Regions from separate parts of the Homo sapiens genome. Here regions 1 and 2 are each linked to region 3. The links come from fine-mapping of genetic effects on gene expression. A gene starts in region 3. Each other region holds a variant in brackets. All regions are shown on one strand. Distances are from middle to middle.

Region 1 (11,220 bases), 69 kb before region 3:
AAGCGATTCTCCTGCCTCAGCCTCCCAAGTAGCTGGGACTACAGGTGCCCACCACCATGCCTGGCTAATTTTTTTTTTTTTTTTTGTATTTTTTGTAGTGTCAGGGTTTCACCATGATGGCCAGACTGGTCTCGAACTCCTGACCTCAGGTGATCCGCCATCTCGGCCTCTCAAAGTACTGGGATTAAAGACATGAGCCGCAGTGCCCAGCCAAATTGATTCTTTTATTTTTTATTTTTATTTTTATTTATTTATTTGTTGAGGTGGAGTTTTGCTCTTGTTGCCAAGGCTGGAGTGCAATGGCATGATCTCAGTTCACTACAACCTCTGCCTCCCTGGTTCAAGCGATTCTCCTGCCTCAGCCTCCTGAGTAGCTGGGATTACAGGCGCCCGCCACAGCCGGGCTAATTTTTTGTATTTTTAGTAGAGACAGGGTTTCACCATGTTGGCCAGGCTGGTCTTGAACTCCTGACCTCAGGTGATCCACCCGCCTTGGCCTCCCAAAGTGCTGGGATTACAGGCATGAGCCACCATGCCTGGCCTATTTATTTATTTTTTGAGACAGAGTTTCACTTTTGTTGCCCAGGTTGGAGTGCAATGGTGCAATCTCAGCTCATTGCAACCTCTGCCTCCCATGTTTAAGTGATTCTCCTGCCTCAGCCTCCTGCTTTTAGAAAGCATTTTACAGGAGAACGGGCGCAGTGGCTAATGCCGGTAATCCCAGCACTTTGGGAAGTTGGAGGCAGGCAGATTGCTTGAGCTCAGGGGCTCAGGACTTTCCTGGGCAATATGGTGAGACCCCATCTCTACTAAAGATTGTTTTTAAATAGCTGAGTGTTGTGGCGAGGGCCTCTAGTCCTAACTACTCAGAGGCTGAGGCGAAAGGATGCTTGAGCCTGGGAGGTCGAGGCTGCAGTGAGCCGTGATCGCACCACTGCACTCCCGCCTGGGTGACAGAGTGAGACCCTGTCTCAAAACCAACTAATAAAAACAAAACAAAAGTATTTTAAAGGATTTCTCCTATTTAAGTCCTTATTCATATGCTTGAAAATATGTGGTAAAGATGTTTTAGTTGTAGGAAAAATGTTGGAAGCAATCTAAATGTCTATCAAACGAGATAATGGTTAAATTATGGTACATCCTGTGATATACCATACAGATTAGAAAGAATGAAGTGGATCTCCAGATCCTAAAGAATTTGATTCTTCAAAATTAAGAAAATCTGTCCAATTAAAAATACTTCAGGGGTGGCAGGGCACGGTGGCTCAAACCTGTAATCCCATCACTTTGGGAGGCCAAGGCAGGCGGATCACCTGAGATCAGGAGTTCAAGACCAGCCTGGCCAACATGATGAAACCCCGTCTCTACTAAAAATACAAAAAAAATTAGCTGGGCATGGTGGCGTGTGCCTGGAATCCCGGCTACCCAGGAGGCTGAGGCAGGAGAATCGCTGGAACCCGGGAGGCAGAGGCTGCAGAGAGCCAAGATCACACCACTGCACTCCAGCCTGGCCAATGGAGCAAGACTCTGTCTCAAAAAAAAAAAAAAAAAAAAAAAAAATTCAGGGCCAGGCACCACAGTGGCTCATGCCTGTAATCCCAGCACTTTTAGAGGCTGAGGCGGGCAGATCACTTGAGGCTAGGAGTTTGAGACTAGCCTGGCCAACATGGTGAAACCCCATCTCTACAAAAAAATACAAAAATTAGCTGGGTGCCTGTAAACCCAGCTACTTGGAAGGCTGAGGCAGGAGAATCACTTGAACCTGGGAGGCAGAAGTTGCAGTGAGCCAAGACTGTGCCATTGCACTCCAGCCTGGGTGACAAGAGTGAGACTCCGTCTCAAAAACAAACAAAAAAGCCGTTAATATTATATTTACATTAGTGATATCATGTCTCACACATAAATAATAAATATATATTGGCTATGAACAATATATTTTTAAGATTCTGGGGCCAGGCACAGTGGCTCATGCCTATAATCCCAGCACTTTGGGAGGCCAAGGCGGGTGGATCACCTGAGGTCAGGAGTTCGAGAACAGCCTGACCAACATGATGAAACCCTGTCTACTAAAAATACAAAATTAGCTGGGTTTAGTGGTGCATGCCTGTAATCCCAGCTACTCGGGAGGCTGAGGCAGGAGAATAGCTTGAACCCAAGAGGTGGAGGTTGTAGTGAGCTGAGATCGTGCCGTTGCATTCCAGTCTGGGCAACAAGAGCAAAATTCTGTCTCAAAAAAAAAAAAAAAAGATTCTGGTCATGAAGGCACTATTGAGAGGTGACAAAGATATATGCATATATGGAAGATATGTACATGACATAAATCCCCACTGTAGTTATCAGTAACTCCACTTTTTTTCTTTTTCTTTTCTTTTTTTTGAGATGGGGTCTCACTCTATCACCAGGCTGGAGTGCAGTGGTACAGTGATATAATCTTGGCTCACTGTAACCTCTGCCTCCCAGGCTCAAGCGATCCTCCTACCTCAGCCTCCCAAGTAGCTGGGACTGTAGGCACACCACACCACATCCAGCTAATTTTTGTATTTTTTTGTAGAGACAGGGTTTTGCCATGTTGCCCAGGCTGGTCTCGAACTCATGGCTTCAAGCATTTCGCTCCCCTTTGGCCTCCCAAAGTGCTGAGATTATAGGTGTGAGCACCGTGCCCAGCCACTAACTCCACCCTTCCAATAGTTCAAGCCAAAAATCTTGGCATCATCCCTAAATCCTCTCTTTCTCTCATACCCCACATTAAAGTATCAACAATATCTGTTGATATTATTTTAAAAATATTTCCGGAATCCAAACCCTTCTCACCACTTCCTTCTATACCACTCTGGTCCAAAGCATCATCTTTTTTCTTTCTTTTTTTTTTTTTTGGAGATGGAGTTTCGCTTTTTCGCCCAGGCTGGAGTGAAGTGGTGCGATCTCAGTTCACTGTAACCTCCACCCCCCGGGTTTAAGTGATTCTCTTGCCTCAGCCTCCCAAGTAGCTGGAATTACAGGCATGTGCCACCACGCCTGGCTAATTTTTGTATTTTTAGTAGAGATGGGGTTTCACCATGTTGGCCAGGCTGGTCTTGAACTCCTGACCTAAGGTGATCCACCTGCCTCGGCCCCCCAAAGTGCTAGGATTATAGGCATGAGCCACCGCGCCCGGTCAGTACTTTCTTTTTGTAGCACTTATCACAATTGTTGGCATATAGTTACCAGGTTATAAGCTTCATGGAGAGTTTGGGTCTGGATTTCTGTTGTATCCCTAGCACTGGTATATAGTAGATACTCAACAAATACTTACCAATGAGTTAATAAATATATCTGCAAGAGTGGTTATAGTATTGTTGTAACTTCCCTTCTACCTCAAAGCTGCTTTTGATTCAACTCCTATCAACAGGTAGGAGAAGTGAGTTCACCATGACTTGTTCTCCATTATGTATACAGTTGTGTCCCCACAATCCTTGTGATGCTAAACATACAAAAGGGGATATATACATGTTTACGGGTTGGTTGATTAAATGATGTGGTTTGATACTCATCTCCTACCTCAACTTTGCCTATTGTCAGATAAGAGGCAAAGAGAAATATTAGGGAAGCAACTCTCAGGTTACAGAGGTCAAAATCTTACTTGGGTCTTTTGAAATGTAGTCTGGCATTCATAGGAATTTGTCTGTTTTTGTCCACTATTGGCCTGAAAAATCAAATACCCTAGGCCAAGACCCTAATTGCCAGTAACTACTATATTATTGAGCATTATAGTATTAAATTCCATGCATGGCCAATATTATACATTATTAGGTTTTAAAGTAATCAGAAAGTATTTGCCCTTTTTTTTTTGCTTTGCAAATGGATGGGTAAATATATTCACTGTTCCTCTCTTCATTGTAGCAAAATCACGACTATATTACAGCATTAATAACTCTCTAGCTGTGTGGCTTTGGGCAAATCATTTCTCTCTGGACATAAATTTCCTTATTGACACAATGAGGAGATTGGATGTAAGGTCTCTTCCAATTCTAACATCTTTTTTTTCTATTTCATTTGATGAAAATTACCACACAAGGCCGGGCACAGTGGCTCACGCCTGTAATCCCAGCACTTTGGGAGGCCGAGGTGGGTGGATCACGAGGTCAGGAGATCAAGACCAGCCTGGCCAAGATGCTGAAACCCCATCTCTACTAAAAATACAAAAATTAGCCGGACGCGGTGGCAGGCGCCTGTAATCCCAGCTACTTGGGAGGTTGAGGTAGCAGAATCGCTTGAACCCGGGGGAGAGAGGTTGCAGTGAGCTGAGATTGCACCACTGCACTCCAGTCTGGGTGACAGAGCAAGACTCGGTAGACTCTGTCTCAAAAAAAAAAAAAGAAAAAAAGAAAAAGAAAAAAGAAAAGAAAATTACCACACAAATTAACTTACCTCTGGCCGGGTGCAGTGACTCACGCATGTAATCCCAGAACTTTGGGAGGCCAGGGCAGGTGGATCACCTGAGGTCAGGAGTTCGAGACCAGCCTGACCAACATGGTGAAACCCCGTCTTTATTAAAAATGCAAAAATTAGCCGGGCATGGTGGTGCATGCCTGTAATCCCAGCTACTCGGGAGGCTGAGGCAGGAGAATCGCCTGAACCCGGGAGGTGAGGTTGCAGTGAGCCGAGATCATTGCCATTGCATGCCAGGCTGGGCAACAAGAGAGAAATAGTCTCAAAAAAAAAAAATTAGCTTACCTCTAATTTATTCAGTTTTCTTCTATGTTCACAGGGAAAAATAAGACTCAAGTTTTCCTTAAATCTGGAGAAACTTTTTTTTAGGTTGTGTATGTGTTCCTACAAGAGAATTTTCTTTGAAAATAAAATACTGGACCAGCCTGGGCAGCCAAAAAACGGAAAAATTAGCCAGGCGTGGTGGCACATGCCTATAGTCCCAGCTACTCAGGAGGCTGAGGTGGGGGGATCATATGAACCCGGGACATCAAGGCTGCAGTGAGCTGTGACTGTGCCACTGCACTCCAGTCTGTGCAACAGAGTGAGACCTTGTCAAAAAAAGAAAGGAAGAAAAAAAGAAAGAAAGAAAGAAAGAAAGAAAAGGAAGGGAGGGAGAGACAGAGAGAAAAGAAAAAGAAGAAAGGAAGGAGAGGAAGAAAGGAAGGAAGGGAGGGAGGAAAAAATAGAGGAAGGAAGGAAGAGAGAAAGGGATAGAAAGAAAGGAAGGAAGGAAGGAGAGAGAATGAAACAAGGAAGGAAGGACGGAAGGAAGGAGAGAGAAAGGAAAGAAGGAAGGAAGAGAGAGAAAGAAAGAAAAAGAGAAAGGAAGGAAGGAAGGGAAAGAAAGAAGGAAAGGAAAAGAAGAAACTGAAAACATAGACTTTTTCCTATTTGGCCATTAGATGTCGCT[C/T]AACATCCAAAAAGTAGAAGAAACCAGATGTACACTATAAAGCTCCTGCCCAGTTCCCCCGGGACTGACCCAGTCATACTGGGTGGCTTGCTTAATCGTGTACTGGTATTTGTGTGTCAGTGTCTTGCCACGTATAGCAAAAAATCCCCTTAGCCATCCAGAAAACTTGTTGCCTATATGTCTTATATATGTGTTTATTTATTTATTTATTTAAGGAGACAGGGTCTTGCTCTGTAGCCCAGGTTAGAATGAAGTGGTGCAATTATAGCTCACTGCAACCTTGAACTCCTAGACTCAAGCAATCCTCTCACCTCAACCCAAACATCTCAATTTTATAACTTCTTTTTATTTTTTTCAGACAGAGTCTCTGTTCCCCATGCTGGAGTACATTGACATAGTCACAGCTCACTGCTGCCTCAAGCTCCTGGGCTCAAGTCATCCTCTTGCCTCAGCCTTCAGAGTGGCTGGGACTTACAGGCGCGGGCCACCACACCAGGCTAATTTTTGTGTCTTTTGGAAACATGAGGTCTCCCTGTGTTGTCTAGGCTGGTCTTGAACACCTGCAGTCAAGGGGTCCTCCTACCTCAGCTTCCCAAAGTGCTGGGATTAGGATTGCAGGCGTGGGACACTGCACCTGGCTGATTTTATCACTTAAGTCAACATATAGTTGTTGAACATTTTGGCTGACTACATACCAGGATCAATAAGCTCCATGGCGGAATTCCCCCTCATCCTTCAGGACCTAGATCAAATGCCACCTCCTCTGTGGGACCTTATCTGACCTTCCTAGAAAACTCTTTGTCACAGTACTTTTGTATTGTGTTTGTTTACCCACCTACCTCCCCAAATTCTGGAAAAGATTCCCAATCTTCTTCATAATAAAAGAAATGCACACTAAACTACAAAAAGATGCTATTTTAACTTACATGGTAAATATCAACAGTTCTGATATTTGGTTTAGAATAATAGGCATTCTCATATATTTTTAGTGAGAGTGTACACTGGTTTATGATTACTGTTAATAGAAGACAATTTAGAAATTTCTGTCTTTTTTTTTTTTTGAGACATGGTCTCGCTCTGTCACCCAGGCTGGAGTGCAGTGGCACTATCATGGCTCACTTCAGCCTTGACCTCCTGGGCTCAAGTGATCCCCCAACCTTACTGCCCCCTGCCCCAGGTCCTAGGCTAATAAACAGATGAGATTTGGCATGAGAAGGAATAACAATAGTAGCATGAATGCATTTTTGGCAGACACGAGTTGGGGAAGGGACATGTCCTCCCCTTCCCCGTGATGGGGAGAGGGGTGATGCGAAGTATGACAACCGGCAGGTGGGTGATTAAAGGCCCGCTTATACTGCCAAACACATGAGGGTAGTCCTGCACCAACCACACTAGGCATCTTATCATTCAATCGGCATCCTTTGCCATATCTCTTTTTCCTCTTGGGGAAGAAAAATGTGCTGGCACTCACCACCTTCAGTCCCCTTCATTTTTCAGAATGCTGATATTTATTTATACTTGAGGAGTGCTTTAAAGTAATTTTTTTTTTTTTTTGAGACTGAGTCTTGCTTTGTTGCCCAGGCTGGAGTGCAGTGGCGCGATCTTGGCTCACTGCAACCTTTGCCTCCTGGGTTTAATCGATTCTCCTGCCTCAGCCTCCCAGGTAGCTGGGACTACAAGAGCGTGCCACGCCTGGCTAATTTTTTGTATCTTTAGTAGAGACGGGGTTTCACTGTGTTAACCAGGATGGTCTTAATTTCCTGACCTCATGATCCGCCCGCCTCGGCCTCTCAAAGTACTGGGATTACAGGTGTGAGCCACCGCACCTGGCCATAAAGTAATTTTTAATTGGTTGTATGTTTCACAACCTGCACAGGGAAACTCAGACATCGCCTGCAACTTTCCCATGCAGTAAGTGTTCCAACCTCACATCACATTTCAGTACAGAATCTTTTTTTGTTGTTGTTAAGATAGAGACAGGGTCTCCCTATGTTGCCCAGGCTGGTCTCAAACTCCTGGGCTCAAGGGATCCTCCTGCCTCGGCCTCCCAAAGTGCTAAGATTATAGGCATCAGTCACCAAGCCCTGCCCCAGTACAGAATCTTGAGTGTAATTATGTTTTCATAATGAACTTTGGTTTCATCAGATGAAGATTGAATCATAGCACTGCAACTTTTATTTATCCACAAGTGGATTACTTAATATTTGTTCTCATTACTACAGATTTAAAAAGCCTTTCAGCAAAAGCCTCTCATTTGCCTCTCACGTGATTGTTGCCAGGAAATGAGAAACCAAATTACATCCTGAATATTCCTTGCTGCTGCCTCAACAATAGACCTAAAACAATAACAGGCTCAAATTAAGATAGAAATAGAACTATGGGGTTGGGGGGAACTAACGTTAGCAATATACAATGCTAATTTAGCACAGAACACTTACAGAACCAATGTACTTTATGCATCACTAGGGCACCTAAACATTTATTCAATAAGCAGCTATCGGCTGGGTGCAGTGGCTCACACCTGTAATCTCAGCACTTTGGGAGGCCAAGGTGGGTGGATCACCCGAGGTGAGGAGTTCAAGACCAGCCTGGCCAACATAGTGAAACCCAGTCTTTACTAAAAATACAAATATTAGTTGGGCATGGTGGCCCATGCCTGTAATTCCAGCTACTTGGGAGGTTGAGGCAGGAGAATCACTTGAACCCGGGAGGCGGAGGTTGCAGTGAGCCAAGATTGCGCCACTGCGCTCCAGCCTGGGCTACAGAGTGAGACTCCGTCTCAAAAAACAAAACAAAACAAAACAAACAAACAAAAAAAAACAAAAAAAAGCAGCTATAGAATACTTGACATTTTTTTACTTTTCCCTCTGATTTCTAGTTAATAACTGTATTTGAATATTATGTAATCCTATATGCCAGGTGCTATTTTAGGCACTTTATATATCATCTCATTTTCACACTTTGATTTCACATGTCTATTCTCCTCCTAACTGCCTCTTCCTTCTGTAGCTCACAGTTTGCTTCTGCCTCCTACTGTTTTCCTCTTGTCTCTATTATTTACTTTCCTCCCATTATTTTTCTCTCTGTTTCACCTCCGTCCTTGGAAAACTTTTTCCATTTTTCCTGAGATTCCCATCCCCCACTGCCCCCATCCTTCTCCTCTTTGCCTGCCTGTAGTGTATGTTGATAGATATGAAGAAAATTCAGAGGAAAGTCACAAATAGTTTTTCTTAAAATACTTTTAAGTTTTAATGACCACTAATAAGTGTATGAGGTTTTGGTGCTCCACATCCTCACTATTTAAAAAATTTTTGCCATCCCGGTGGGTGTGTAGCAGTATGTCATTCAGGTTTTAGTTTGCATTTCCCTGAACACCAATGATGTTGACCATCTTTTCATGTGCTACTGGACACTCACATATCTTCTTTTTATTATTATTAGTGTGTGTGTGTGTGTGTGTGTGTGTGTGTGTGTCTGTGTGTGTTTCACCCAGGCTGGAGTGCAGTGTCATGATCTGGGCTCACTGCAACCTCCGCCTCCCAGGTTCAAGCTATTCTCCTGCTTCAGCCTCCCAAGTAGCTGGGATTACAGGCGCACGCCACCATGCCTGGCTGATTTTTGTATTTTTAGTAGAGACGGAGTTTTGCCATGTTGCCCAGGCTGGTCTTGAACTCCTGACCTCAGGTGATCTGTCTGCCTTGGCCTCCCAAAGTGCTGGGATTAGAGGCGTGAGCCACCACGACCAGCCACATACCTACTTTGGTGAAGTATCTATTGAAATATTTTTCCCTTTCAAAAAAATGAGTTGTCTTTTTATTACTGAGTTGTAGGAATTCCTTATATATCCTAGATACTGCAGCCTTATCTGATATATATTTTGTTAATAATTTTTCCCCAGTGTGTGGCTTGCATCTGTTTCCTAGTGGTGGCTTGTTGGGCTGGACACGGTGGCTCATGCCTGTAATCCCAGCACTTTGGGAGGCCGCAGTGGGCGGATCACAAGGTCTGGAGTTCGAGACCGCCTGACCAACATGGTGAAACCCCATGTCTAACAAAAATACAAAAATTAGCTGGGCGTGGTGGCATGTGCCTGTAATCCCAGCTACTCATGAGGCTGAGGCAGGAGAATCACTTGAACCCGCAAGATGGAGGTTGCAGTGAGTCGAGATCGAGCCATTGCACTCCAGCCTGGGCACAGAGCGAGACTCCATCTCAAAAAAAAAAAAAAAAAAAAAAGGCCGGGCGTAGTGGCTCACGCCTGTAATCCCAGCACTTTTGAGAGGCCGAGGCGGGTGAATCACAAGGTCAGAAGTTCAAGACCAGCCTGGCCAAGATGGTGAAACCCCATCTCTACTGCAAGTACAAAAATTAGCCAGGTGTGGTGGTGGGTGCCTGTAATCCCAGCTACTTGGGAGGCTGAGGCAGGAGAATCACTTGAAACTGGGAGGCGGACGTTGCAGTGAGCTGAGATCTCACCACTGTGCTCCAGCCTGGGCAACAAGAGCAAGACTCCATCTCAGGAAAAAAAAAAAAAAAATGGCTTATTGTTGTTTTGAGACAGTCTCACTCTGTCACCCAGGCTAGAGTGCAGTGGCATGATCTCAGCTCACTACAGTCTCTGCCTCCCAGCTTCAAGCAATTCTCCTACCTTAGCCTCCCGAGTAGCTGGCACTATAGCCGCACCACCACACCTGGCTAATTAATGTATTTTTAGTGAAGAGGAGGTTTCACTATGTTGGCCAGGCTGGTCTCAAACTCCTGACCTGAAATGATCCGCCTCCCTCGGCCTCCCAAAGTGCTGGGATTACAGACATGAGCCACTGCGTTCAGCATGTTTTGTTTGGTTTTTGGTTTTTTGAGACAGGGTCTTGCTCTGTTGCTCAGGATGAGTGCAGTGAAGCGACCACAGCTCACTGCAGCCTCAAATTCCCGGGCTCAAGAGACGCTCCCACCTCAGCCTCCCAAGTAGCTGGGACTACAGGCACGTGCCACCGTGCCAGACTAATTTTATTTTATTTTTTGTGGAGATGGGTCTCCCTATTTTGCCCAGGCTAGGCTGAACTCAAGTGATCCTCCTACCCCAGCCTCCCATGCCTAGCCGATGGTGGCTTTTGGTAACCAAAAGTATTTCTTTTTGATGAAGTCTACTGCTTTCTCAAACCTTCACCTATTCACAAGTCAAGCTGTTATTTTCACATGTTTCCTCTAAAAGCTTTATGGTTCTAGCTTTACATTTAGGTTTATGATCTATCTCAAAATGATTTTTGTGTGTTATGAGCTGGTGGAAGGGATTTATTTTTTCCATAAGGATATGCAGCATAATTTATTGAATTACTTTCATTTACTCATTGGATTGCTTTGGTTCCTTTTTGAAAGTCAAAGGCTGCATAAATATGGGTGTTTTGCTATTTTTTGAACTATTATTATTTTCTAATTCATTTTTAAATTATCTTTTTGTTATCAGTTTTTTACTTTATTATATTCTGATCTGAGGATCTGGATTATATAATATTGATTTTTTAATTTAAGAAGACCTCTCTTTTGGCTTAGTACATTGTCAGTTTTATTAAGTAATCCTTTGTGCTTGAAAAGAAAAAGTTTTTTCTCTAATATTTGGTTTCAGAGTTCTATGTAGGTCATTTGAGGAACTGCTTTAATTGTGTTGTACAAATCTTCATACTCTTTTTTTTTTTTCTTCTTTTTTTTGAGACAGAGTCTTGCTTAGTCACCCAGGCTGGAGTGCAGTGGCTCGATCTCCGCTCACTGCAAGCTCCGCCTCCTGGGTTCACGCCATTCTCCTGCCTCAGCCTCCGAAGCAGCTGGGACTACAGGCGCTCGCC
Region 2 (5,000 bases), 49 kb after region 3:
ACTGAGTCAGGAGCTTTATCTTCAGTGTTAGAAATAAAATGATTCATTGCATGCTCTATGTTTGGGAATGTTAGTAAACTGTGTTTTTCTCCCCTTTAATTAGTAACTGAAATTAGGAGCTCATGGAGAAAAGCTATTGAAATGGAAGAAAACAGAACTAAAGAACCAATTCAAATGGATGCTGAACATAGAGAAGTATTGCCAGAATCATTACCTGTGTTGCACAATCAAAGAGAATTTAGCATGGCTGATTTTCTCTTAGAAACCACTGTATCAGATTTTGGCCAGTCTCATTTGACTGAAGAGAAAGTTATTTCAGATTGCGAGTGTGTGCCTCAGAAACATGTGCTGACCAGTCACATAGATGAACCACCAACACAAAATCAGTCAGATTTGTTAAATAAGAAAGTAATTTGCAAGCAAGATTTGGAATGTTTAGCCTTCACCAAGCTTTCAGAAACTAGCCGAATGGAGACATTCTCCCCTGCTGTCGGCAATAGGATAGATGTGATGGGTGGCAGTGAAGAGGAGTTTATGAAAATATTGGACCACTTAGAAGTTTCTTGTAACAAACCTTCCACAAATAAAACTATGTTGTGGAATTCTTTTCAGATATCAAGTGGAATTAGTTCTAAGAGTTTTAAAGATAATGATTTTGGCATATTACACGAAACTCTCCCGGAAGAAGTTGGTCATCTAAGTTTTAATAGTTCCAGTAGTTCAGAGGCCAATTTTAAACTGGAGCCAAATAGTCCTATGCATGGTGGCACTCTTCTAGAAGATGTTGTGGGAGGGAGACAGACTACTCCAGAATCAGACTTTAATTTACAGGCTCTTCGCAGTAGATACGAGGCTCTGAAGAAATCTCTTTCCAAGAAAAGGGAAGAATCTTACCTCTCGAATTCCCAAACACCCGAAAGACACAAACCAGAATTGAGCCCTACTCCCCAAAATGTACAAACAGATGATACGCTTAACTTTTTGGACACCTGTGATTTGCATACTGAGCATATAAAGCCATCTTTACGCACGTCCATCGGTGAAAGAAAACGGTCTCTTTCACCACTAATTAAGTTTTCTCCAGTGGAACAAAGATTGAGAACCACAATAGCATGTAGTCTTGGAGAACTACCTAATTTAAAGGGTAAGGTTTAAATAGACCTATGCATATTCACCTGTTGAAGTTTTCTCTCAACTTTTGATAAAACCAGTACACAAAGAATGCTGCATGACCTTTATTGTTAATGTGCTCCCCCTTCCTTCATTTAGGATGAGGGGAATGATCCCTCACTGGACAGGTCCTTTCAGAATCTCTGTTTATGTATATATAGTTACAATTGATTTGAGACAGGGGTGGGAAAAAAAAGCCCCCCCAATCTGAAGCTTACAGGTTTTATAATACAAATGACTGAAAAGTAAATGTCATCAAAATCTTGCCCAGTGGAAGGTGGTTTTTAAACACTTGAGAAACCCAATTTTAAATATCATCACTATAATGGTGTAATATCTGGGGGTGGGGTGTAGAAATAAAAGAAGCCAGGTCAGTGTATTAGTTTCCTAGGGCTGCCATAACAAAGCACCATCAAGTGGGTGGCTTAGAACAGCAGAAATTTATTGTCTCTGGAGACAGTAAGTTCTAGAGGCTAGATGTCCAAAATCAAGGTGTTGACAGGGCCATGTTCCCTCTGAAGCCACTAGAAGAGGATCCTTCTTTGCCTCTTCTAGCCTCTGGTAGCACCAGGCATTCCTTGGCTTGTGGCAGTGTAATTCTAATCTTTGCCTCCATTGTCACATGGTATTCTTCCCTTGTGTGTGTATTGTCTTATAAGGACACAGTCATATTAGCTAATTAATGGGTCACCCTACTCCAGTATGACCTCATCTTACTTAGCTAATTATATCTGTAATGACCACATTTCCAAATAAGGTCACATTCTGAGGTACTGGGGTTAGAACTTCAACATATGTTTTTGGGGGTATTCAGTTCATAACAGTTAGTATTAATAATTATTGAAGCTAGGTGATGGATATATTGAGTTAATCACAGTTCTCTTCACTTTTGTATGTTTGAATGTTTTCCTCATAAAAGGTTAAAAAAATTGCTCTTGTAGCTCATTAAGAGAGATAAGGATCTGGTGATACAGATTCATTACATACTCTGATTTGCCCATAATAGTTATACACTGCCATATTGAAAAGTATTTGGCTGGGCACAGTGGCTCACACCTGCAATCCCAGCACTTTGGGAGTCCGAGATGGGAGGATCACTTGAACCCAGGAGTTCGAGACTAGCCTCAGCAACACAGGGAGACTATGTCTCTACAAAAAATTAAACAATTAGCTGGGCA[C/T]GTTGGCGCATGCCTGTGATCCCAGGTACACAGGAGGCTGAGGTGGGAGGATTGCTTGGGCCTGGGAGTTTGAGGCTGAAGTGAGCTGCGATCGTGCCACTGCACTCCAGCCTGGGTGACAGAGCAAGACCCTGTCGCAGAAAAAAGAAAAAAAAAAAAGTACTCTGGGAGGAATGTATTGATCTCTGGAGAAAGAGGGTACTTTGGTGAGAATAATAATAATTTTATCATAATCAAGTATTTGCAAAGCTATGAACCTTTTTTGTATTGACTAAAATTTGCTATTGCTTGGAATCTATTGTTTATTTTTCTTTGTAATGTTTGCTTATACTTTTTTAAAATCAATTTGCAGAAGAAGACATTTTGAATAAGAGCCTTGATGCAAAAGAACCACCGTCTGACTTGACAAGATGAAGACGTACCCATTTAATATAACTATGATGCACTTAAATTGAAGCTATGCCACAGGATAGAAAATGAATTACAACTTAAATACATGTTGGAAGTGTAACACTGTTTTTCAAGGTTTAAAAAAATTCCTAATGCCTTTTAGCCTTCTTTAATATTTTTAGGTAAGGAAAGTATGTTTGGATTTTTTCCTCTTTGTAGGTATATGAGATTGAAATGTGAAGTATTTGGACAACAAACGTCAAGCAATGGGAAGCCATTTTGATTTCTTGAGTAATCTTGTAAGCATTAAGTGAATGACAAAGTAGTAGTGTAACTTATTTCTTATGTTATAACTTCAGTCAATTAATATAAGGATAGTTTTTGTTGTATGTTCACTAAATGGTTAATATAATAGCCATTGAATATACTAATCTTTCATCTTAGAGAACTATACAACTTTTATTGTTTCTTAATGGAACATTCTGGCTAACCAGAAAAAGTGAGAAAAGTAGTACCTTGGGATGTGTAGTCAAGATGACAAATTTTAAGACTGGAAAAGCTCTAAACAGGCTTAATGATTCTTCAGGTAGAATGATCCTGAGAAGTGATGTTTGATGGAATAAAGTGCATGTGATGATTAAGTGAAGACTGGGGCAGAATGATTTAAAAAAAGGAAAAAGATGGAAGATGAGTAGACACTTGCAAGGAACACTGTCAAACTATAAATCCATTCAGTGGGTTGTATAACATTTATATTTAGTCTAATTTAGACTTTGATAATTTAATGCTACTTTTATATTTTAACAAAAATATAAATTAAAATTTTCATTAGTCTGTTTTGTTGTTGGGTTTTTTTGTGAGGTACTCCCTGTTGGGGGAAAGGAACAAGGAACAACCATCAGAATCCCCCAGTCCCTACAGAATAGCCTCACAGTAACTTGAGAAAACTGAACTTGGGGTTAAATAACTTGTCACACTTGCAGTCTCCTGCCTCACTCCTTCAGGTGCCCTGCCTAGAAAAAGACTTGTGTCTAGCATCCAAGTGAACACATACTATTGCCCTCTGTGAACCAGGAGGAATGGAACAGGCAATGGAAGGGTGATAGTACCTACAATACCCTTTGTAGACCCCATCTCACTACCATCAAAATCTTGTCCACTAGCCCCCAAAAAACTGGCAAGGAAAGAAGGTGGAGGGGAAATTTATGGAAGTAGATGGCTTAATAGTTATTTCTTTTATCTTGGGCTGCCTTTCTCTAAGTTGGTTGTCCTGTCCCAGTGTGAAGACCCATCTTTTTGTGAGAAAAGACAAAAGAAAGCACATGTAACTACCTTCTTTGCAATGGAAAAGGAGAAAGAAAAAATCTTCTCCTAAGTTGCTGTTTTCTTTTATTAGTTAATAAAACAAATCAGGGACTATGCAGGTCTATGGGGAAACCTTTAGTCTGCTTTAAGAAAACTCAGTATCTGAAAATCTTAACTTAGCATGTGATACTGTCTTATCAGCATCTGCAGAAGTGCCAAAGCCACTGCTAGACACTTAATGTGTATTATTTCATTTAATTATATTTTAAATGTGCTTCCTTGGTAATTCTTAAGCTCGAGAAAGAGTTTGAGAACTGCTGCTAGGAAATAGAGATTCACATTTAACCCTGTGGTACTTTTAAGAAGCAGGTACGTTGTTGCATATATACTTGGGTAGAGATTGGTAACTATCTGATAGGGAAGCTCAAGTTGGCCACCCAAGTCTGAGAAACCCTTAATTACTGAGAATCAAAAGAGCAGAATGTCTGTAGACATTTTGGATTTGTAAAAATCACATTGTTGAGTTATACCTGTGATGGGCTGAAAGTTTTTGGCATTCTTTCCTGTTCTTCATATGCCAGTACCATAAACAAAAAGTATCTCAGATCTGTCACTTTCTTCTCCTAAACCAATGTGATGGCAGCTTTTTGCCTTCAGCCTTTTCCCTATCCAGTATCTCCTACATAGTTACCTTTTGATCTTAAGGAACTGTTTTGATTGGGTCACTTCCTTGCCTAAAATTCCATTGATTGTTCATTGTTAATTCTAAAATAGAGTTCAAATTTAAAGGCATGTAAGTTCCCCTGTAACGGATTTCCTCTACTCCCCCTTCCGCTGTAATCTCCCATTTTTTTACTGAAATGCTTCAGTGAGCATGGGTCTTTAGAGGTCTTGATATACAATTTTCCTGAAGCAGGAATACCTTGCTTTCCTCTACTAGTTTACCACAATTACAGC
Region 3 (10,691 bases):
GTTTGCACCACTGCACTCCAGCCTGGGTGACAATGAGACTCCATCTCAAAACAAACAAACAAACAAAACAAAACGAAATCCAATGTCAAAATTTCCATTTTTTCAATTTTTAAGTGTACAATTATGTGGCATTAAGCACATTCACAATGTTATACAACCATCACCGTTATATTCATCTTAAGCACAAATTCTGTACCTATTAAACAATAACTCCAGGCTGGGTGCAGTGGCTCACGCCTGTAATCCCAACATTTTGGGAAGCCAAGGAGGTTGGACCACTTGAGGTCAGGAGTTCGAGACCAGCCTGGCCAACATGGTGAAACCCCATCTCTACTAAAAAATACAAAAATTAGCCAGGCATGGTTGCAGCGCACGCCTGTAATCCCAGTTACTCGGGAAACTGAGGTAGGAGAATCAGTTGAACCTGGGAGGCTGAGGTTGCAGACAGCTGAGATTACGCCACTGCACTCCAACCTGGGGGAGAGAGTGAAACTCCATCTAAAACAAAACAAAACAAAAAAACCCACAATAACTCCCCAATTTCCCTCTTTCCTTCTATTTTTTGAGGGATTTTTTTTTTTTTCCTGTAAACAGTGTCTTGCTCTGTTACCCAGGCTAGAGTGCAGTGGTGCAATCTTGGCTCACTGCAACCTCTGCCTCCTGGGTTCAAGTAATTCTCCTGCCTCAGCCTCCCGAGTAGCTGGGATTACAGTCATCTGCCACTATACCCGGCTAATTTTTGTATTATTAGTAGAGATGGGGTTTCACCATGTTGGCCAGGCTGGTCTCGAACTCCTGACCTCATGATCCACCTGCCAAAGTGTTGGGATTACAGGCGTGAGCCACCGCACCTGGTCTTTTTGAGGGATTTTTGTTGCTGTTAGCTCTTTTTCCTCTGTTAGGTAATCAGCTACATTTTTTCCTCCACTATCAAGATTCTAGCCTTTGGTAATACGTTTTATGTTATTAATTTTTTTTCTTTTCTTTCTTTTTTTTTTTTTTCAGACAGAGTCTCGCTCTGTCGCCCAGGCTGGAGTGGTGGTGAACCTCGGCTCACTGCTCCTGGATTCAAGTGATTCTCCTGCCTCAGCCTCCTGAGTAACTGGGGCTACAGGGGCATGCCACCACGCCTGGCTAACTTTTTGTATTTTTAGTAGAGACAGCGTTCCACCGTGTTAGCCAGGATGGTCTCGATCTCCCAACCTCGTGATCCTCCCATCTCGGCCTCCCAAAGGGCTGGGATTACAGGCGTGAGCCACTGCAGCTGGCCTTAATTTTCTTGTTTTAATCTGTTGTTTGCTAAGAAACATTACCTAGCTTATCGAAATTGTATATAAAATAAAATTTGATAGAGTTTCTTGTCCCTAAAGGCTTTCCTGTGCAGGGAAGAGGTAGGGTTTTGTGATGGCTGTTTCAACCATAAAAAGACCTTTTGTTTCCTCAGTTGCTAAACATTTGCCTAGACACTTGCTTATGGAAAAGTGGGGTATTATTGTTTTTAAGAAAGTAATAGATTAATAGTTGAATAACAAAAAATGCTTTATATCTGGTATTTTTTAAAAAAGCTTCATTGACTAGGTTCCACCACTAGTTAGTTTCCTTTTTAAAAGGTTTCCTTAGTGCTTTTATAGTATGAGGGAATTGCAGGAATAAGACCACAAACATCTTTTCAAAAAGCACAGCTATGGACAAAGCAAGGTTCACCTACATGCACTAAAGTCTCCATGAGCTCAGATGGACCTGACAACTCACTTCATCGGTGTTTGTTTCAATATCCAAGATTCTTCTTTTACAGGTGTTTGATTTCACCACCATAGACTTGACATCTGAGACTGATGAAATTCCAGATATTATAGCTTTGGAAGAGGAGAACGGATCAAATAATTCACATGCTAATGGCCCTGTCCTCTCAGGGCAAGATGTTGAATAACTAACAACAATAAAATACCCCTTTTGGTTGAATACGCAATTTGTATTACATTAAACTTCCTGTTTTTATTCCTGTGACTTTGAAGAGTGTTAATCTATTTTTTGGCTACATTGGTCTTAATTGCAATGACACTCTGATCTAAACTTTTGTAAGAGATCCTAGTTCTGTGTCATATAATCATTTAATATAATTAAAGTTTAATTGCTGAAATACTTATAATGAAAATTGGGCTGTATAATCTTGACTTCATGATTTTTTTTCCCACTGGTATAGTGAACATTTGTTGTCTTTTGGTCTCCCATGATTCATTCATGCTTCTTTTGAAGGTCTCAGTGGGTATAGTGGTCAAGGTTTTTGCTTTCCCTTAGCCTAGTGATGGGCATGTGACTAAAAGCAGGTCACCTGGGAGGAAGCATAGCATGATGGGTAAGGGCTCAGACTCTGGGTTGTAATCTGGCTCTGCTGCTTACTGTGTGACCTTCAGCAAGTTACTTAATTTCTCTATGCCTCATTTTTTTCATCAGTAAAACAGGAATAGGGCTAAGTTTGCTCTGAAGATTAAATAGTTAACATTTGTGAAAAGCATAAAGCAGTGCCTGGCACAGAGCCGCATTAAGTATTAGTTGCCTGTAATCCCAGCACTTTGGGAGGCCAAGGCGGGTGGATCACTTGAGGTCAGGAGTTTGAAACCAGCCTGGCCAACATGGTGAAACCCCGTCTTTACTAAAAATACAAAAAAAAAAAAAAAAAAAAAAAATTAGCCGGGCTGTGGTGGCACAGGCCTGTAATCCCAGCTACTCAGGAGGCTGAGGCAGGAGAATTGCTTGAACCCAGGAGACAGAGGTTGCAGTGAGCCAAGATCACACCACCGCCCTCCAGTTTGGGTGGCAGAGTGAGACTCCATCTCAAAAAAAAAAAAAAAAAAAGTATTAGTTAAGGGAGTAAACTGTAGAAGCAATCCGGGGGCAGTGGCTCACACTTAGAATCCCAGCACTTTGGGAGGCCAAGGTGGGAGAATCACTTGAGCCCAGGAGTTCCAGACCAGTGTGGGCAATATGGTAAGACCTTCTCTCTATAACAAAAAACCTTAAAAAATTAGGCTGGGCACAGTGGCTCACGTCTGTAATCCCAACACTTTGGGAGGCCAAGGCGGGCAGATCACTTGAGGTCAGGAGCTCCAGACCAGCCTGGCCAACATGGTGAAACCCTGTCTCTACTAAAAATACAAAAATTTGTCAGGTGTGGTGGTGGACGCCTGTAATCCTAGCTACTCAGGAGGCTGAGGCAGAAGAATACCAGCCTAGCCTGGAATTCCTGGCCTCAAGTGATCCTCCTGCCTTGGCCTCCCAAAGTGCTGGGATTACAGGCATGAGCCACTGCGCCTAGCTGCCAAATCTTAGAATGAGGCCTAGTGAGTGAGAACTAAACTCTGATCTTTTTTCTTTCTTGTCCAAATTCCTATCTACAGAACTTGGGGAGTCATGTCCTACAAGCCATAAAAATCTCATCAGATGGGTTTTGTTGAAGCCTATATAACCCAGCTTACTTTCCAACCTGACTAGCATAATATCACATGACAGATAAAGAAGGAAATCAAAATATTTTTTCCCAAAATATGTTTCTTTGTTATATTTTGAAATGGTCCTGCAACGTCGTCGCTTATGGGGAGAAATCTACATCTGTAAAGAAGCTGGCTGGTGGCTCACGCCTGTAATCTCAGCACTTTGGGAGGCCGAGGCAGGCAGATCACCTGAGGTCTGGAGTTCCAGACCAGCCTGGCCAACACGGTGAAACCCCGTCTCTACTGAAAATACAAAAATTAGCTGGGCATGGTGGCGCATGCCTGTAATCCCAGCTACTTGGGAGGCTGAGGCAGGAGAATTACTTGAACCCAGGAGGCAGACGTTGCACTGAGCAGAGATGGCGCCACTGCACTCCAGCCTGGGCGATAGAGTGAGACTCCGTCTCATAAATAAATAAGTAGATCTTTCCCCTGGCAGGCCCTCCCAATCCTGAAGAGATTAACTGAGGATCCAATACTTGCTCTGTCACCCAGGCTGGAGTACAGTGGCGTGGCATGTGATCTCAGCTCACTGCAACCTCTGCCTCCTGGGTTCAAGGGATTCTCCTGCCTTAGCCTCCCAAGTAGCTGGGACTACAGGCGTCTGCCACCATGCCTAGCTAATTTTTGTCTTTTTAGTAGAGATGGGGTTTCACCATGTTGGCTGGGTTGGTCTTGAACTCTTGACCTCAGGTGATCTGCCTGCCTTGGCCTCTCAAAATGCAGGATTACAGGTGTGAGCCGCTGTGTCTAGCCTAAATTTTTTTTTTTTTTCTGAGACAGGGTCTTGCTCTGTTGCCCAGGCTGGTGTGCAGTGGCATGATGTGGGCTCACTGAAACCTCTGCCTCCTGGGCTGAAGCAATCCACAGCCTCAGCCTCCCAAAGTGTTGGGATTATAGGTGTGAGCCACCGCATCCAGCTTCTAGTACTTTTGGGTGGCCACCTATGAGACTTCATACTAACCCTGGTGTCCACAACCACTTATCTTGACCTAGAAACTTTTCTATGGATTCCAGGTCTTTAGATAGTAGCTTGACTCTAAACCAATGGCAATCATAAAATCTTTGTTGTTGTTGTTGTTGTTGTTTTGTTTTGAGACACAGTCTCACCCAGTCGCCCAGGCTGGAGTTCAGTGGTGTGATCTCGGCTCACTGCAATCTCAGCCTCTCGGGTTCAAGCGATTTTCCTGCCTCAGCCTCCCGAGTAGCTGGGATTACAGGTGCGCACCACCATGCCCGGCTAATGTTTGTATATTTAGTAGAGATGGGGTTTCACCATGTTGGCCAGGCTGGTCTCAAACTCCTGACCTCAAGTGATCCGTCTGCCTCGGCCTCCCAAAGTGTAGAGATTACAGGTGTGAGCCATCACATCCGCCCCAATCAGAAAATCTTTGAGTCCACCTATGACCTGAACCCACCACTTTGAGTTGCCTCACCTTTCTGTACAGAACCAATGTATACGTCACGTGTATTGATTGATGTCTTATGTCTCTCTAAAACTGTATAAAACAAAGCTATAGCCCCATCATCTTGGGCACATGTTCTCAGGAACTCTTGAGACTGTGCCTCAGGCCATGGTCATTCATATTTGGCTCAGAATAAACCTCTTTAAATATTCTGTTAGAGGAACCCCTGCTTACCAGACCTCTGGTTTAATAAAACATGACTAGAGTGACTCCATCTTAAAGTAGCTAGGCACTTACAAGGCTCCTATAAAATTAATGCTTATGGTTTAAAAATAGCCACATTCTAAGCTGGCCACCAATTATAATTACAGAATATTTATGGCCATACAGGACATCTCCCACTAAGCCTGCAGAATGTCCAGATGTTCTAAAGAGCAGCCCACTTTACTTAAAGATGACGTTAATGAGCAAGCTTAGGTTGAAAGATTAATGGTCTCTGAAAGCACAATAGCCCTACCTTTAGTGAGCACATCTGCGCATTCCAAGTTTAATCACAGCTCTTTATAGTTTCTTACAAGCAGAGACAGTAACAAAGGACCTTGTGTTCCTCCGCCTGCTTTCTGAGGTTGCTCCGCTCTTCAACGGAGTAGTTTCCAATAAACTTGCTTCCTTCATTGTGTTCTGTGATTCACCTCAAATTATTTCCTGCACGAGATCCAAGAACCTTCTCTTTGGGTCTGGATCAGGACTCTGTTTTTTCCGGCAACAATTTTACAGACTTTGACTCTTTTTGTCGACAGGAGTCAGAGATTTTTTTTTTGTGGCTGTTCTTTTGCTTTGAGAAGGGTCTTGCTCTGTCACTAGGCTGAAGTGCAGTCGTGCAATCACAGTTTACTGCAGCCTCAGCCTCCCAGGGCCCACGTGATTTTCCCACCTCAGCCTTCTGAGCAGCTGGACCACAGGCGTGCACCACCAGAATGGAGTCAGAGATCTTACAGATGACCTCCATAATGAAAAGCTATGGGTGATAGCATAAACTTCAAAAGGTGCTTTTAGGCTGGGCACGGTGGCTCATTCCTTGGGAGGTCAAGGTGGGCAGGTCGCTTGAGCCCAGGAGTTCGAGCCCAGCCTGGGCAACTTAGTGGCTTTTCTTTCTTTCTCTCTCTCTCTCTCCTCTTTTTTTTTTTTTTTTTTGAGACAGAGTCTCACTTTGTCGCCCAGGCTGGAATGCAGTGGAAGGATCTTGGCTCACTGCAACGTCTGCCTCCCGGGTTCAAGCGATTCTTCTGCCTCAGCCTCCCGAGTAGCTGAGCTGGGATTACAGGCATGCGCTACCACGCCCGGCTAATTTTGTATTTTTAGTAGAGACGGGGTTTCTACATGTTGGTCAGGCTGGTCTCGAACTCCCCACCTCAGGTGATCCGCCCACCTTGGCCTCCCAAAGTGCTGGGATTATAGGCGTGAGCCACTGTGCCCCGCCTCTCTCTCTTTTATTAAGGTGATTTTAGTGAGGCAGGAGACAATCATTGCCAGAGGTAGCAATGAGACTTAAAAGCAGGTTACCCAATCCACTTCCAGGCCCTGTTGTCAGTGGGGTTTGTGGTAGGCAACAGCTGTCAATTAAGACGACGGGCCGGGTGCGGTGGCTCACGCCTATAATCCCAGCACTTCGGGAGGCCGAGGAGGGCGGATCACGAGGTCAGGAGATCGAGACCATCCTGGCTAACAGGGTGAAACCCCGTCTCTACTAAAAATACAAAAAATTAGCCCGGCGTGGTGGTGGGAGCCTGTAGTCCCAGCTACTCGGGAGGCTGAGGCAGGAGAATGGCGTGAACCTGGGAGGCGGAGCTTGCAGTGAGCCGAGATTGCGCCACTGCACTCCAGCCTGGGAGACAGAGCTAGACTCCGTCTCAAAAAAAAAAAAAAAAAAAAAAAAAAAATTAAGAGGACTGCAGGCGGCCAGGCGCAGTGGCTCACGCCTGTAATCCCAGCACTTTGGGAGGCCAAGACCGGCAGATAACCTGAGGTCAGGAGTTCGAGACCAGCCAGCCAACATGGTGAAACCCCGTCTCCATTAAAAATACAAAAAAATTAGCCGGGCGTGGTGGCGGACACCTGTTAATCCCAGCTACTCGGGAGGCTGAGGCAGGAGAATCGCTTGAACCCGGGAGGCGGAGGTTGCAGTGAGCCGAAATCGCGTCACTGCACCCCAACTTGAGCAACAAGAGCGAAACCCCGTCTCAAAAAAAAAAAAAAAAAAAAAAAAGACTGCAGGACTGCAGGGGAGTATAGAGCCAGATTTCATTTAAAGCAGGAAAAGGAACATCCGGCATTTGAGGACATAGATTTCGCTAACGACAGAAATGAGGCTCAGAGATTACGTGACTTGATTAGAGTCACAGTGAGCATAGCGGAGGATGGAACCAATGCTTTAACTCTACACCGAGGCATAGTGCTCCATTTATGGCTTTTTTGTGACGTAACAACTAGGATACACAAGCAAATGGACCCCACTAACCAAGAATCAGAAACCCGAAGGCCCGAGGATCTGGGCACGACAGCGGTTAAGCAAGCGCAGAGCAAGTCGCTGGCCGCGCAATGCCCGGTGGGTCTTGCAGTTTCTTGGCTGGGCATGGCCGGAAGGGAGGAGAGAAGGACGCATTGCATGGCGGGAGATATAGTCTTTGCCGGAAGTCCCTCCTCCCTCGGACGCCTGGCGGCGCCGGCGCACACTGCTCTTCCTTAAGGGCGGGAGTCTCGGTTTGTGGTGGCTTCGCTGAGGCAGTGGTGGCCGCACTATACCGTTAGAAACTCAATTTCCCGGAGGTTGTGAGGCCCTTTGAGGCGAAATCGCTCTGGGCGTGAAAGGAGCAGGCGTTGGCAATGGAAGGACCACCGCGACCTCAGGCTGACCGTAGGGAGGGATCTTGAGGGCCCTCCGAGTCCCCTGGGCTTGCGCTTTCTTTCTTTGCAGCCACCGTGCCTACCGCGAGGATGAGCTCGGCCTCGGTCACCGCTTTCGAGAAGGAGCATCTCTGGATGTATCTGCAGGCGCTCGGCTTCGAGCCAGGCCCGGCAACCATTGCCTGCGGAAAGATCGTGTCGCACACGCACCTCGGAGTGTAAGGAGGCCGGGGCCGGCGGGGCGAGGGAGCCTGAACCGGGGGACGCCGGGGGACTCCCCCTTTTGTAGACCCCGGAGGTTGATTAATCAGAATTGGTTGAGCAGTTACTCTGTGCCAGGCATTGGCTCCAAAGTTCCTACTCCCAGTTGCTGCCAGCCTAGGGGCAGAGACAGACAGTAAATAATGCAAGAGTGCCGGAAGCGCTCTGTAGGGGAGTGCAAAAGTCTGCAGATGGGGAGAGTGCAAGACTGGAGGAGCAGCTTAACTCTGCCTATGTGGTGGAGGGGTGGTCTGTGAAGTAGTGGGAGGGATGGCGGGTGGTAGTGGAAGAGCATGGGAACCATATGTACAAAACACCTTTTGGACTCAAGGGAGCCTTTGAAGGTGGTTGTTTAATTTTATAATTTTTAATTTTTTAATTAGTAAGGCATGTTGGAGTTAGCATAAAACAACGGAGAAGGGTATTAAAAACAAATACCCTTTTAAGAAAAGTATGGAAAGTAAAAGCCCCTTCCCTACTTTTTCCACTTCTGTTTTATCAACTTTAGCCAGTATCTCTATTTAATCATTCCCACTGTAGGCCAAGAGGAATTCTTTTCTTTCATATGGAGTCTCCCTCTGTTGCCAGGCTGGAGTGCAGTGGCACGATCTCGGCTCACTGCACCCTCCAACTCCCTGGTTCAAGCGATTCTCCTGCCTCAGCCTCCCGAGTAGCTGGGATTACAGGCACTTGCCACCACGCCCAACCAATTTTTGTATCTTTAGTAGAGACGGGGTTTCACCATGTTGGCCAGGATGGTCTCGATCTCCTGAGCTCATGATCCACCTGCCTCGGCCTCCCAAAGTGCTGGGATTACAGGCGTGAGCCACCGTGCCCGGCCTCTATTTTTTTAAAGTATTATTATTTTAGAGACAGTAGCTAACCATGTTGCCCAGGCTGGTCTCAAAATTCCTGGGCTCAAGCAATCCTCCTGCTTCGGTCTTCCAAAGTGCTGGGATTATAGATATGAGCCATTGTTTTTTGTTTTGAGACAGGGTCTCCCACTCTGTCGCCCAGTCTGGAGTGCAGTTGTGCGATCACAGCTCACTGCAGCCTCCAACTCCTGGGCTCAGGCGATCCTCCCACTTCACCCTCCTGAGTAGCTGGGACTACAGGTGCGTGGCACCATGCCTAGGGTCGGCATGTTGCCCAGGCTGGTCTTGAGCTCCTGGCCTCCAGCAATCCCCCCGCCTTGGCCACTCCAAGTGCTGGGATTACAGATGTGAGCCACCGAGCCTGGCCTGTTTTATTTATGTTCATAGTTGTACATATTTTGGGGATATAAAATTTTGATATTTTGATACACTTATACAATGTATAAGGATCAGATCAGGATAAATGGGATAGCCATCATCTCAAACATTTATCTTTCCTTTGTGTTGGAAACATTTCAGTTCTTTTCTAGCTATTTTAAAATACACAATAAATTATTTTTAACTATAGTTTCACTTATGTACTATTGAACACTAGAACTTATTCCTTCTATCTAACTGTATATTTGTACCCATTAATCAACTTCTCTTCCTCCCTCCTTCTCTCCTTTTCCTTTCCTAGACTGTGTTAACCACCATTCTACTCCCTACCTCCATGAGGTCCACTTTTTTTGCTTTCACATGTGAGAACATGTGATATTTGTCTTTCCGTGCCTGGTTTATTTTACTTAAGATAATGACCTCCAGTCCCATCCATGTTGCTGCAGATGACAGGATTTTCTTCTTTTTGTGTGGCTGAATAATATTCCATTGTGTATATATACCACAATTTCTTTATCCATTCATCTGTTTTCTTTATCCATTCAACTTAGGTTGATTCTGTATCTCGACTATTGTGAATAATGTGTCACTAAACATGGGAGTGCAGATGCCTCTTTCATATACTGATCTCCTTCCTTTTGGATATATACCCAGCAGTGGGATTGCTGGATCATAGGGTACTTCTATTTTTAGTTTTTTAAGGAGCCTATGGTTTCCCATAATGGCTGTACTACTTTACATTCCACCAACAAAGTACAAGCATTCCCTTTTCTCTGCAGGATCCACCATCTTGTAACACATGTCCACTTTAAATGCTTTCAACATGGATGTGGCATTAAATTTACTTTTTTGTTTTTATTTTTTGAGATAGTCTGGCTCTGTCTCTCAGGCTGGAGTGCAGTGGCCTGAATGTGGCTCACTGCAGCCTCCATCTCCTGGGCTCAAGCGATCCTTCCTTCCACTTCAGCCTCCCGAATAGCTGGAATTACAGGTGCCTGCTGCCACGCCTGGCTAGTTTTAATTCTTTTTTTTTTGAGATGGAGTCTTGCTCTGTCGCCCAGGCGGGAGTGCAGTGGTGCGATCTGGACTCACTGCAACCCCCGCCTCCCTGGTTCAAGCAATTCTCTGCCTCAGCCTCCTGAGTAGCTGGGAATACAGGCGCCTGCCACCACGCCTGGCTAATTTTTTTGTATTTTTAGTAGAGACCGGGTTTCTCCATCTTAGCCAGGCGGAATCTTAAATTCCTGACCTTGTGATCCACCTGCCTTGGCCTCCCAAAGTGCTGGGATTATAGGCCTGAGCCACCACACCTGGGCAGCTAAGTTTAATTCTATTCTTTTTGTAGAGATGGGTTCTCACTGTGTTGTGGAGGCTGG

Evidence for each region. PIP is the estimated chance that this variant, and not a neighbour inherited with it, causes the effect. A credible set is the group of variants that fine-mapping cannot tell apart.
Region 1: its variant is the best candidate, but not a certain one, in a credible set for the expression of HAUS6 in subcutaneous fat (GTEx, PIP 0.54).
Region 2: its variant is the best candidate, but not a certain one, in a credible set for the expression of HAUS6 in fibroblasts (GTEx, PIP 0.68).

Annotation. Positions count from the first base shown.
Region 1 is chr9:19,168,597-19,179,816 of GRCh38, reverse strand. No RefSeq gene overlaps it. Among named protein-coding and RNA genes, the nearest start is that of PLIN2, 47 kb to the right of the region's middle. The variant C/T (reference allele first, on the strand shown) is at 5,381.
Region 2 is chr9:19,054,105-19,059,104 of GRCh38, reverse strand. HAUS6 (HAUS augmin like complex subunit 6) reads left to right here. Exons shown (of 17, transcript NM_017645.5): 16 at 104-1,144; 17 at 2,701-5,000. The coding sequence ends at 2,762. Among named protein-coding and RNA genes, the nearest start is that of RRAGA, 7.2 kb to the right of the region's middle. The variant C/T (reference allele first, on the strand shown) is at 2,349.
Region 3 is chr9:19,099,852-19,110,542 of GRCh38, reverse strand. It overlaps HAUS6 (HAUS augmin like complex subunit 6), which reads left to right and starts at 7,639. Exons shown (of 17, transcript NM_017645.5): 1 at 7,639-8,019. The coding sequence starts at 7,892. It also overlaps a transcript of PLIN2 not described here. RefSeq lists an enhancer at 7,397-7,960.